Homo sapiens: one gene and its partners. The protein of the gene in region 2 interacts with the protein of the main gene of each other region in a biochemical or structural test. Each region holds a gene or a part of one and is shown on either strand. Other genes may lie near its edges.

Region 1 (3,652 bases), on a different chromosome or scaffold from region 2:
CTCCAAAGCTTGTGCTTTGGTTGAAAAGGGGTTTTCTGTGTTCCTTGTATTCATCCTTCAAGTTCATGGCCATCACCCATCACCATCTGAGAGTACTTAGTGCTCAGAGTAACTGAAAGGAAGCATAAATCCTCCTTGCTTTGAACACAACCCAGGGTTTACCGTATGTTCTTGTCCTGGCCAATGCTAATCAGCTCTTCCCCGCTTCTTCCATCTTTAATGCTTGTAAATCAAGCTGCCCCAGTATTAGTCACCACAAAAGAGATAATTAGTAAGTACAAGCTGCTACCTTCATAGATCACTCTGTCTCTGGCTCAAGCTAAGCCAAGAGACTGGAGAAAGCTAACATTACACAGTATGAGTTGCATTAGCAGAACCTTTATTACACAAAGCACGTGAGTCTGAATACTTAAATCAAGAATCTGCACCCTCCCCAGCTGTTGTAAGAACAGCTGTGATATGAGACCAAAGGAAAGGCTACTTACCTACCTTATGAGGTTTTCCTTTCCTGGACTCAAAAACTTATCTTTAGAACCCCAAGAATTTGAAAGTGCAATGGTTTCTTAATGGCATAATCTTGGGATTCAGATATTTTTAAAATACTGTAACCCCCATTGATGGGGCAGCAGAGAAAGGTGCCAGTTTCTTTTACTAGGACATGCTGTGTCCTCCCAACAAAGCCATGGCTTGTACCTTTGCCAGCCATTTGTCCAGCTGGAAAATAACGTTACTATTCTGGCAGGGCACATGGTCAAGAGCATTGCTGCCTCCTCAGAAAAGACCATTTCCAGACCAGCTAGGAACTTCCTTTCCATGCACTGCTAATCAGATACTACCAGCCTGCCTGGAAGTGTTTCATTCAAGTATTTGTTACGTTGGAGCCGCTCAAATGCAAGTTGGCTTTTATTTTTTCCATCACACAGTGTTTCACCAATTTTTGAGTTTCCCAGATCAACCTCTTCACTATGTTTAAACAGAATGATTCCAAGCCAACGCAGCTAATCGGTACAGTAAAACCTCACGAATTCAAGCCAGGAATTTGAACTCTTCCAGCTGAGGACAAGCACTAGCAGTGTAAGTTGGAGGCCTGTTTTCTCATCTAGAAGATGAGGACATAAGGTTGTATAACCAAACTCCTTTTCTACTAATATTAAAACCACATTTCATCTAATCTAAGATGCCACTGACTATGAGAGGTATGTTCATATAACAGCAAAGAAGATGACATTTTAAAATGTGCCATCAGTTAAATAATCCCCAAACACCAAAGATATCCCCATGATGCATAGATTGGTGAACTAGACTCTTGTGGCTTTGAAATCCATTCAGATGAATTTGGCAGCTTCTCCTGCCCTTGGTTGTGTTGCTTGGCATGAAATAGGCAATCCTTTTTGAATGTTCTCAATAACAAAATGTAACACCACTTTTAATTCCCTTGGGTGCATCTTTCTAAGCAGATAAAACATTTGCTTGTCCCTTTGCAAGAAAACACAGAATTGTGATTCTGCTTCTAACAATGAATATGTACTTCATCAATATCCAATTGTTCTGTTTTTGAGGCTTTCTATAACTTTTCATTTTAGTACTGAATCATTACATTCAAATGGCAATTAAACTCAATGGTGTAATACCAAGTATGTAGGCAACTCAATGGAAGTGATAAGGGGTACTCGTGCGACTGGGTTTGCAGTGCTGGGATGGTGACGTCTGCATCATGACTGCCACCTGGCAACAGAAACTTCACAACCCCATCAATCACACATGCATCCTGATTTTAGACATGTTAAAGCATGAAAAGAGCATCTTAGGATGTACAAAATATGGAAATAGCGACAATCTCATGAGAACTGCTTGTAGTCATGTAGATACCATGACGACTTTAATGAATTTGCATTCTAGTACTTTTGGCAAAAAGTACTAAACCCCTGATAAGACTTAATGTCGATCAAACCTCACAGCAATCCAGAAAGTATATGCAAATTTGGAAGTTTAGCCAGGTAAATAAAATTTCCCTAGATCACCCAGCTATGTAAATTTCAGAGCAAGGATTTAGATCTAGACAATAGGACCTTCCATCTTGCCATTTCTATGATTCTATGGGCAGTAAAAATCATGTGTGCATATCACGGTAGACTGACCTTTGATTTCATCTACTTTCAAAAACATGAAGCATCCCTGAAGTAGGATCTCAAAGGGCTATTTAAAATAGCTCAATCATATAGGGTTTTGAGTAATGAATTGATAAGAATTTATAATTAACACATCCATTATATGCAAATGGACACTTCCTAAAGGGGCTCGTGATATGATTTCTGCCTTCACAACTGTGGAAACTGGAGTGGTTACCTGTAGCTACCCTCCCCACAGTAGAGTGAGATAGTTAAATCACCATTTCCTGACCAAAACCTAGCCTGTGCGCTGCAATGACTTGCCGAGTGGCAGTGTTCATGTTCATGGCAAAATATGGACCTAGATCAGCTCCAACCTTGGTCTTCTGAGCCTCGAGAATGTTCTTTTTCAACTTCTTTCTATTGCACCAATAACTTGCTTTTCTCACAAAGTTTGGTTTTTGTGGAGTTTTCTGGATTTTTTTTTATAGCATGGATAGTGAATGGGTAGAGACAAATATGTTTTTGCTAAAAACCACAAAAGCTGTTTTACTCTCTTAATGGTAGACAACATGGCAATGAATGACACTTCTCAGATCATGGGAGCCCCCAACACCAGGGAGGCCCTCCCAGACCAGCCCAGAGAAAGAGAATGGAAGCCACCAAGCTGCCACTAGAGGATAGCAATGCTGAACTCACTCCTGTGGCTTTGTGGTGAGGGTGATTCTGTTTGCATGAACAGTTAAATATGGAATCTGGGAGGAGCTTTATATTTACGTTCAGTGCTCTGGGAACAAAATCCAAAAGAAGAGTGAGGGTGTGACTAAGGGCTTTCATGGTCAAAATAAACACCAGCAAGCAGGAATTACCAAATAGTTGAACATTGCCAGCCTCAAACCCTACTCATGTAGACACCATGGTGACCTGAATAAATTTGCATTCCAGCAGCCAATGTAGAGATTGCTTTAAGAGAATGCAGTGGGCGTCTTTAAAAAATCTCAAATTATGAATTCACTTGGTTGGCAAATGTATATTGAGTACCGATGTGTGAAAAGGGAAGAGAGGATATAGCGGCAGGCAAATCAAATTCCAAGTTCAACAAGCCTATTATACATTCTTCAATTGTATTTGAAGAGGGCTGACTGAGGAATGGCAGCAGAGCCAAAGCTCTTCTTCACCTCCCCGCTGGTTCTGTTACAGCTGTAAAGGTGCCTCCCACTACGGCCTGACCAAAGATAGGAAGAGGCGCTCACAAGATGGCTGTCCAGACGGCTGTGCGAGCCTCACAGCCACGGCTCCCTCCCCAGAGGTTTCTGCAGCTGCCACCATCTCCTTAATGACAGACGAGCCTGGCCTAGACAACCCTGCCTACGTGTCCTCGGCAGAGGACGGGCAGCCAGCAATCAGCCCAGTGGACTCTGGCCGGAGCAACCGAACTAGGGGTGAGTCAAATGGGTGGTTGTCCGGGAATGGGCTCCTTGGCTTGCGATTGCCCTCTGTGGAATACTTACTGTGGAAAGTTCTGTAAATGTTTTTTAAGGGGA
Region 2 (3,752 bases):
GTGTGCGCACGCGCTCGCGTGTGTGGGAGTGGGGTGGAGATGGACAGCAAAACCCTTTTTTTTTTTTTTTTTTTTTTAAATGGAGGTGGGCAGTGGGAGAGATCACTAAGATAGAGTCCTCCCGGGAGCCAAACCTCTCGCCCGGTTGATTCTGGCAAGCCTGAGACAGGCAAACTGTCTACTTTCCTGTTTTGATGTGGTCCGAAGAAATAAACAAGAAACAAGGAGAGACCCTTCCTCAAACTGTAACTCCAGCCAATTAGCATGAAAAGCTCAAGAAGCTATTAACCAGAAGTTTCGGCTTTAGGGGACCAGGGACTTGCCCGAGGCCCTGGCATGCGCGGCGGCTAGGTTTAACTTTCAACTCATAGTGACCTTTTCCTTAATTTAATGCAAAAAATCTTTCCCAGAGGTGGAGATTTAAGATGCTAATGATACATACGTCCTATGAAGAAGCATGTTAAACCACCATGCATGCACCAGAAAAACTCCACCTCTACATGCCCTGTCTATAGTTCTCCTTATTTCCCCTTACGGGAGAGGCCCGTAAAAGAAACCCACACCCTGACTTCGAGGAACAGCCCACTTTTTTTTTTCTTGGTGTTAGCTCCCTTGTGCGCACAAGCTTTAATTAAAAGAAAGAAAGAAAGAAAACCAAAAAAACTTGCTTTTTGCTGCGATATCCCTTGATTTCTGTCCTGAAGGATCCAAAGAGCCCTCAGGGAGTCGATACCAGAGCCGTATTTGTTTTTGCAGCAACAGGTTGGCTGCGGGCTCTTCCCCCGCCTTCCAAAGCCCTCAGCCCCTGGCCCACCCTGCAACTTACTCATCTCTCCAACCCTCCTCCCCTAGAACTGCTGCCTCCTGTGCGCAGCCCCTAGCCTGGGCCTGATTCCAATTTCTGTAACATTCCCCTGCCCGGGATTGAATACAGGTTGAAAGTCGGTCTCCTCCGCGCCCCTGAGGCCCAACCCCGGCGCTGAAGCCTCCCAACTCCTGTGTGCAAAGGAGACGGAGACTGAGGGATCTGGGCGCTCTGGCAGGCACAGGAGGGCTCCCCGCCCGTGGCCTCGCCGGAGATGCACCCGGCTCCCAACCCAACAAACCCGCTTTGGGAGGGGATGGGGTGGGGAAAAGAAGACGGGGCTCGGGGCTCGAGGGGAGATATAGAGAAAGCAAGTTAGGTAGAGGAGATGTCCCAGAGGACCCCATTTTCGGGACTGCACCTCCCATTGGAGCTCCCCGCTCCCAAGCCCTCTGGGGACTCCCGCGCTGCCGTCGAAACCCCTATTCCGGCCCCAACGGGGACACTTCTCCAGGATTTGCTCCTCGCCTGTGGGGACCACAGCCAAAGACTCCTGGAATCGATCCCAGATCCTGGGAGTCGGGGGGCCCAGCCGGGGTGCGGGGAGTCGCGGCGTCGTGACTGCACCCGCCCCGCCGCGCCGGGAGGCGCCCCTGGCGACCGTCGCGAACGCCACACCCTCGGTTCGGCCCTGGCCCCGCCCCCGCCCAGAGCGCGTTCGCGGCCAGGGGAGGCGTGTGCTGCTCCCGCAGCCAGCGAGAGCGAGAGAGGGATGGATGTTGGAGGAGGAATTCGGGCTTAACAAGTGATCGCTGCTGTCTAGGATTTTGTTTCTTTTCGGGGGAACCTTGACTTCCTTTCCCAGGCAATCCCTCCTGTGCTGAACTCCAGAGGAACCAGGAGTCTTGGGGTCTTCTCTGGGGCAGCCCCAACCCCCACCCCCAGGCTCCAGCCGCGAGGACTCTGTGCACCCCTCGGGCCAGGCAACAGAACTTGTTCCGTGGATATTTGGAGCCTCCACCTGCCAAACCCGAGTGATTCCTTTTACCACCCCCCGCCCCCCACCCAGGATCATTCTTCCCCTCCTCCAGCTGTTGCAGCTTGAGGGGGAAAAACAAGCCAGCCGGTGGATTTTCTTTATTTTTATTTTTCGCCCCGCCGGGGAACGGTAAGTATGATACCTTTTTTTTTTTTTTTTTTTTTTTGTATCTTTCCTCTACCTTCTTATTTTGGCTGTTAAGAAACAGTGGACATTTGAGGGATAAATAATATCGGGAATGTGACAGAAGGGCATGAATGGAAGGCGGTTAAAAATAAACCAGGAGGTGGGAGAAGGGAGGTGCGGATGCTGCGCGGCGCTCCGGGGGGCCAACAGTTGTTATTTTCCCAAACCCGGGGATGCGGTGAGTGCGCCCTGCTTAACGTGCTGGAGCGGGAACCGAGGTCTGGAGGCGAGGGCGCGATTAAAGATGTCGTTTCCCAACGAGAGGGGGGTTAAGATTTAGCATCGTTTCGCCTCCTCCCAGCCGCACCGGTTCCCTTCTTTTGGGAACAGCCGGTGAACGGGTCTGAATTGCTGCCTCTTCCAACGTTTGGATTTGCGTGCATTTTCCGAGCATTTGAGCAACATACATAGGGGCTGCATAAATGGCGTGCGTTGAAGTGTATATTTCTCACGGTGGTGGCTTTTCTGATTCCCTCTCTCAGTTTCTCTCTCTTTCTCTCTCTCTCTCTCTCTAAGGTTCAGGTACCACCCTGACAGTGACACAGTTGCAGGAATTAGCACTGAGAGACGAACAGCCTTGTTGTTGGAGGGGTGAGAGGAGGAGGGGCGGGATGCTTGGCTGTTGTTTGGGGGCGCCGGGATTGGGGAATAGGTAGTCTGCAAAATCCTATTAGTTTAATGGTGTTAAAGAAGAAGACAAATTCCTCTGCAAAGATCTCTCTCATAAAGGCTCCTGGGAATTGGCTTGAATAGATTCTCCTAACAAGAGTACCTTGAGAAAGAAGAGAGATTTTAAACCAGTCTGATTTGCTGGGAGGAATGATTTTTCTTTTCTCTTCTTTTCTTTCTCTCTCCCTTTCTTTCTAGATCAGGGATAGTGAAGTAACTAGTAGATGATTAAAAGGAAGGCAATTTGCTACTTGTAGGGTGGAGGAGGGAGTTAGATAAACAAAAACTAACAATCCCAAATAAATAAATAAATGTGAAATTATTTGGTGTAGAGCAGAAAGAGGGCAGTTCTAGAACTCCCGAAGAGCTGATGGTGAATTAGAAGACTCGCTAATTCATGACCTTCTGGGAGTCAGTTGGGTGGGAAGGCAGTGTGTGTAGTATTCAACTATACAGGAACTTGGGTTACATTGGGGCTTCATTGAAATTATAATTGTTTTAGGGGAGTTGGGGAAGAAACTGAGCAAACTCTCAGGCTATTTGGTCTGTACCGGTCTTGAAAGGATGTTGGCCTGACACTCCACTGCGAATGTCACCCCAGGATGGTTTTGTAAGTAGGGATTTGGAAACTCCTTGAGGGTAAACATTTCAGAGTATGAGATGATGTTAGGAGTCAGGCAAAGGAAGGGAGATGGCATGTGAGATGCCCTCTGTGGTGTATTTTCTGGAGTTTGTGTTGCAATCAAATGCCCTTCTTGCCCTAGGAAAATATATATGATTGGGAAGGGGTGTATGATTGGGAAGACCTCTGTTTGCCACTTCCATGCTTGTCACTTCATAAAATTCAGTGTGTTTAGGCTTTTAGGCTGACAGGATCAGCAAGGAGCAGCAGGTGGTCAAGAGCTGAATCCTGTTAATGGCTTCAGAAAGCCATTTCTCTTATGCTTTCCAAGTGCTTCCAGTAATAGAAGCTGGTAGATGCCCTGAATTCTGACTATCATCATTCTCTCCAGTTCTCTGGGTTACTCCCTGCATTCTTGGAAGTCCTGTTGA
Region 3 (3,652 bases), on a different chromosome or scaffold from region 2:
TCTGGCTCACTGCAACCTCTGCCCCCACACCCCAGGTTCAAGTGATTCTCCTGCCTCAGCCTCCGGAGTAGCTGCGACTACAGGCACCCACCAGCACTGTGTAATTTTTTGTATTTTTAGTAGAGGCGGGGTTTTGCCACGTTGGCCAGTCTGGTCTCGAACTCCTGACCTCAGGTGATCCACCCGCCTCTGCCTCCCAAAGTGCTAGGATTACAGGCATGAGCCACCGCACCAGGCTGAAAGTACATTTTTAAGCAGTAAAATCTAATAACACAGTTAACCAGAAAATCTTTCCAACATTCAGCAGTACTAGTATCTTGCATTCTAGGAACCGGAACATTCCTTTACTAACTGGCTTTTCCATTAAAGCTGCTGATGCCTAGAGTAATAAAAACACGACTGCACTGGACAGTGTTCTTAAAGTTCACATGACTGGGATGCTTCCCAGAAAATAGCTCCATTATCTTCACATTTTCATCCTATAATAATTTGTAATCCAGGAAGGCAAGGTTTGTATTTTCTTCTAGGCAGAAAATAAGTTAAAGAACCAGACTGTATGGATCCCAGAGCCTGACCCCTTGACCGAGTGTCTGGTCACTTGATATTACAAATCTAGACTTCCTGATAAATGGCCCTGTAGTGACCTTGTTACTGGGATCCCTAGATGCTGGTTTCCTGCCTGGTTTCTCTGCATCCAAGTCCCTGTCTGCATCTACTGTCCATCCAATGCCCATCCTCTTCTGCCTGGGTCCCCAATGCCACCTGCTTCCCTGCCTTTGCCAAAGGTCAGTGACTTAGTCATCATCTCAGAACTAGGGCTGGAACAGGGATGTGGGCGTTGGTGCAGGAAGAAGAGGTGGAAGTGTGAGCACTAGAGGAAAGAAGATAAGGTCTAGGGTGACTCCCGCCTCCTGCCCTTCTTTGCTTACACACCCTGGCTCTTAAATTCTATTAGAAATTGGTCAGTGGGAAGCACAGCTGGCTTGTTCATCTCCCTGTCCATCTATCATAAACTCTGTCCCTGCTCCTCCATCCAGCCAGGGTATGTGAGTGACGTTCCAGACTCTGCCAGTCCTTGTGGCAGACAGGTACCATAGTGAGGTGAGAGCTGACAAAAGGCCGGTGTGGCAGGCACAAAGCTGGGAGTGGCATCCTACTGGAGGTGGGACCACAGAGGTGTGGGGACCAAAGCCACAAACATCAGGCCTGCAGGCCATGCAGAGGTTAGTTTTGTCTTTATCCAGGTAGAAGATTCCTAGTGCTAGAGGGTTTTCCATGCTGGCTCACCCTGCACTGATCTCAACCTCGAAGTCACTCTTAAATCCGGACGTGACCACACGTCCGGATTTACCTAGGGCAGTCCCGGCTTAGACCCGTCAGTCATGTGCAATTATTAATAGGACCCCTTTTTATTCTCAAATTGTTCTGGTTGGGATGATAAATTCTAGTTGCACTGTTCTTGGGGGCCTAGGCCTGTGAAGTCAGTGCTGCAGTTAGAGAAGTCTACCCATGATTAGCAGGGACGCCCAGCCTGATGAGTCTCACCCCTCATCAAACATTCCATTTGCCTCTCCAGTATCCCTGCCAAACCATCATCTGGCTTCTGCTTGTATATCTGCAAGGACAGCAGGCTCACTATCTTCTCAGGAAGCCTCTCTTTTTTGGGGAAAGCTTTGTTATAAAAATAGCAGGATTCAAACCTGTATACAGTATGACTGCAACTAAATAACAACATCCAGGCCGGGTGGGGTGGCTCATGCCTATAATCCCAGCACTTTGGGAGGCCGAGGTAGGTGGATCACTTGAGGTCAGGAGTTCTAGACCAGCCTGGCCAACATGGCAAAACCTCATCTCTATTAAAAATACAAAAAATTAGCTGGGCGTGGTCGTGGACACCTGTAATCTCAGTTACTTGGGAGGTTGAGGCAGGAGAATCACTTGAACCCAGGAGGCAGAGGTTGCAGTGAGCCGAGATCGCGCCACTGCACTCTAGCCTGGGTGACAGAGCAAGACTCCATCTCAAAAAAAACAAAACAAAAACAAAACAAAAAAAACCCCACATCACTCAGCAGGGAAAGGCGTGGGGCTGGAAGAAAGCAGAAAACCTGCTGACTTTTCCCCTTGCACCTCCTTCCATCTCTCCCTCTCCTCATTCAACAAATATTTACTGAGTGCATTTGATGGTCCAGGGACTGTGCTTGGCACTGGGGACAAAATGGTGAGTTAAAACAGACTCAATGTGAGGGGCATTCTACAAAATAATTGGCTTGTACTTTCCAAAAACGTCAAGGTCTGGCTGGGCATGGTGGCTCACGCCTGTAATCCCAGCACTTTGGGAGGCCGAGGTGGGCGGATCACCTGAGGTCGGGAGTTGGAGACCAGCCTGACCAACACGGAGAAATCCCGTCTCTACTAAAAATACAAAAAATTAGCCGGGCGTGGTGGCACATGCCTGTAATCCCAGCTACTCAGGAGGCTGAGGCAGGAGAATTGCTTGAACCCAGGAGTCGGATGCTGCAGTGAGCTGAGACTGAGCCACTGCACTCCAGCCTGGGCGACAGAGCGAGACTCCATCTTGGAACAACAACAACAAAAAAAGTCAAGGTCCTGAAGGACCAAGAACAATTGGGGAACTGTCTTAGTTTAAAGGAAACTAACGAGACATGACAACCGTACGCAACCCATTTATAAGAGTTTTTTTTTTTTTGCTATAAAAAAGGACATCACTAAGACAACTGGCAAAACCTAACATCTAGGCCGGGCGCAGTGGCTCGGGCCTGTATCCCAGTACTTTGGGAGGCTGAGACAGGCAGATCACTTGAGGTCAGGAGTTCGAGACCAGCATCCAACATGGTGAAACCCTGTCACCACAAAAAATACAAACATTAGCCGGGCATGGTGGCACACGCCTGGAATCCCAGCTACTTGGGAGGCTGAGACAGGATAATTGCTTGAATCCAGGAGGCGGAGGTTGCAGTGAACTGAGATCACACCACTGCACTCCAGCCTGGGTGGCAGAGTGAGGGACACTCTCTCTCAAAAAAAAAAAAAAAAGTATATAAAACTTGAGGTTTATAGATTAAACAATGTTGTATCACTATTAATTTATTGATTCTAAAATTTGTATTGTAGTTACGGAATATCATCGCTTTTAGGAAATATATGTAGGGGGAAAGGAGGCATTGATAAATAATCCTCAAATGGTTCAGGATAGATATATATGTACACAGGGATAAAATAAAAAGAATAAAATGGTAATGTTTGGGGAATCTGGGTGAAGAATTTATGGGACTTCTTTGATTTATTCTTACAACCTTCCTATGGGTCTGAATTGTATCAAAATAAAACATTAAAAGAAAAAAAAATAAAACTTAGAAAAAGTTTTTTTAAAAAAGAGACCCTGCCTTCACACAGCTTACAGTGTAGCCGGGAGACAGGTACTAATACAAATAATTACATTAATTAACTGCAAAATTGCCACTAGGAAAAGTGCTATAATGGAGAGAGATCTGGTGGCATGAACATTTATAGCAACAATTTAACTCAAGTCAGGAAGGTGAGCAAAGGCTCTGCAATCATGGAGCTGAGACCCACAGGATGAAGTAATCAGTGGGGAGGGGGAGAAGGTCCCAGGCTCTTGCAGTCCCTGCAG

Evidence for each region.
Region 1: of the proteins of KCNA4 (region 2) and LNX1, one has a biochemical effect on the other in vitro, tested with the Homo sapiens proteins (2 studies listed by BioGRID and IntAct, with this or other methods).
Region 3: the proteins of KCNA4 (region 2) and PTPN3 interact in a test that uses a peptide from one of them, tested with the Homo sapiens proteins (one large-scale study listed by IntAct).

What each region holds. Positions count from the first base shown.
Region 1 is NC_000004.12:53,507,884-53,511,535, reverse strand, and holds part of LNX1 (E3 ubiquitin-protein ligase LNX), read left to right. Parts: intron 1-3,308; coding exon 3,309-3,550; intron 3,551-3,652.
Region 2 is NC_000011.10:30,014,793-30,018,544, reverse strand, and holds the start of KCNA4 (potassium voltage-gated channel subfamily A member 4), read left to right. Parts: upstream 1-1,514; 5' UTR 1,515-1,973; intron 1,974-3,752. UniProt on the Homo sapiens protein: Voltage-gated potassium channel that mediates transmembrane potassium transport in excitable membranes. Forms tetrameric potassium-selective channels through which potassium ions pass in accordance with their electrochemical gradient.
Region 3 is NC_000009.12:109,488,162-109,491,813, forward strand, and holds part of PTPN3 (tyrosine-protein phosphatase non-receptor type 3), read right to left. Parts: intron 1-3,652.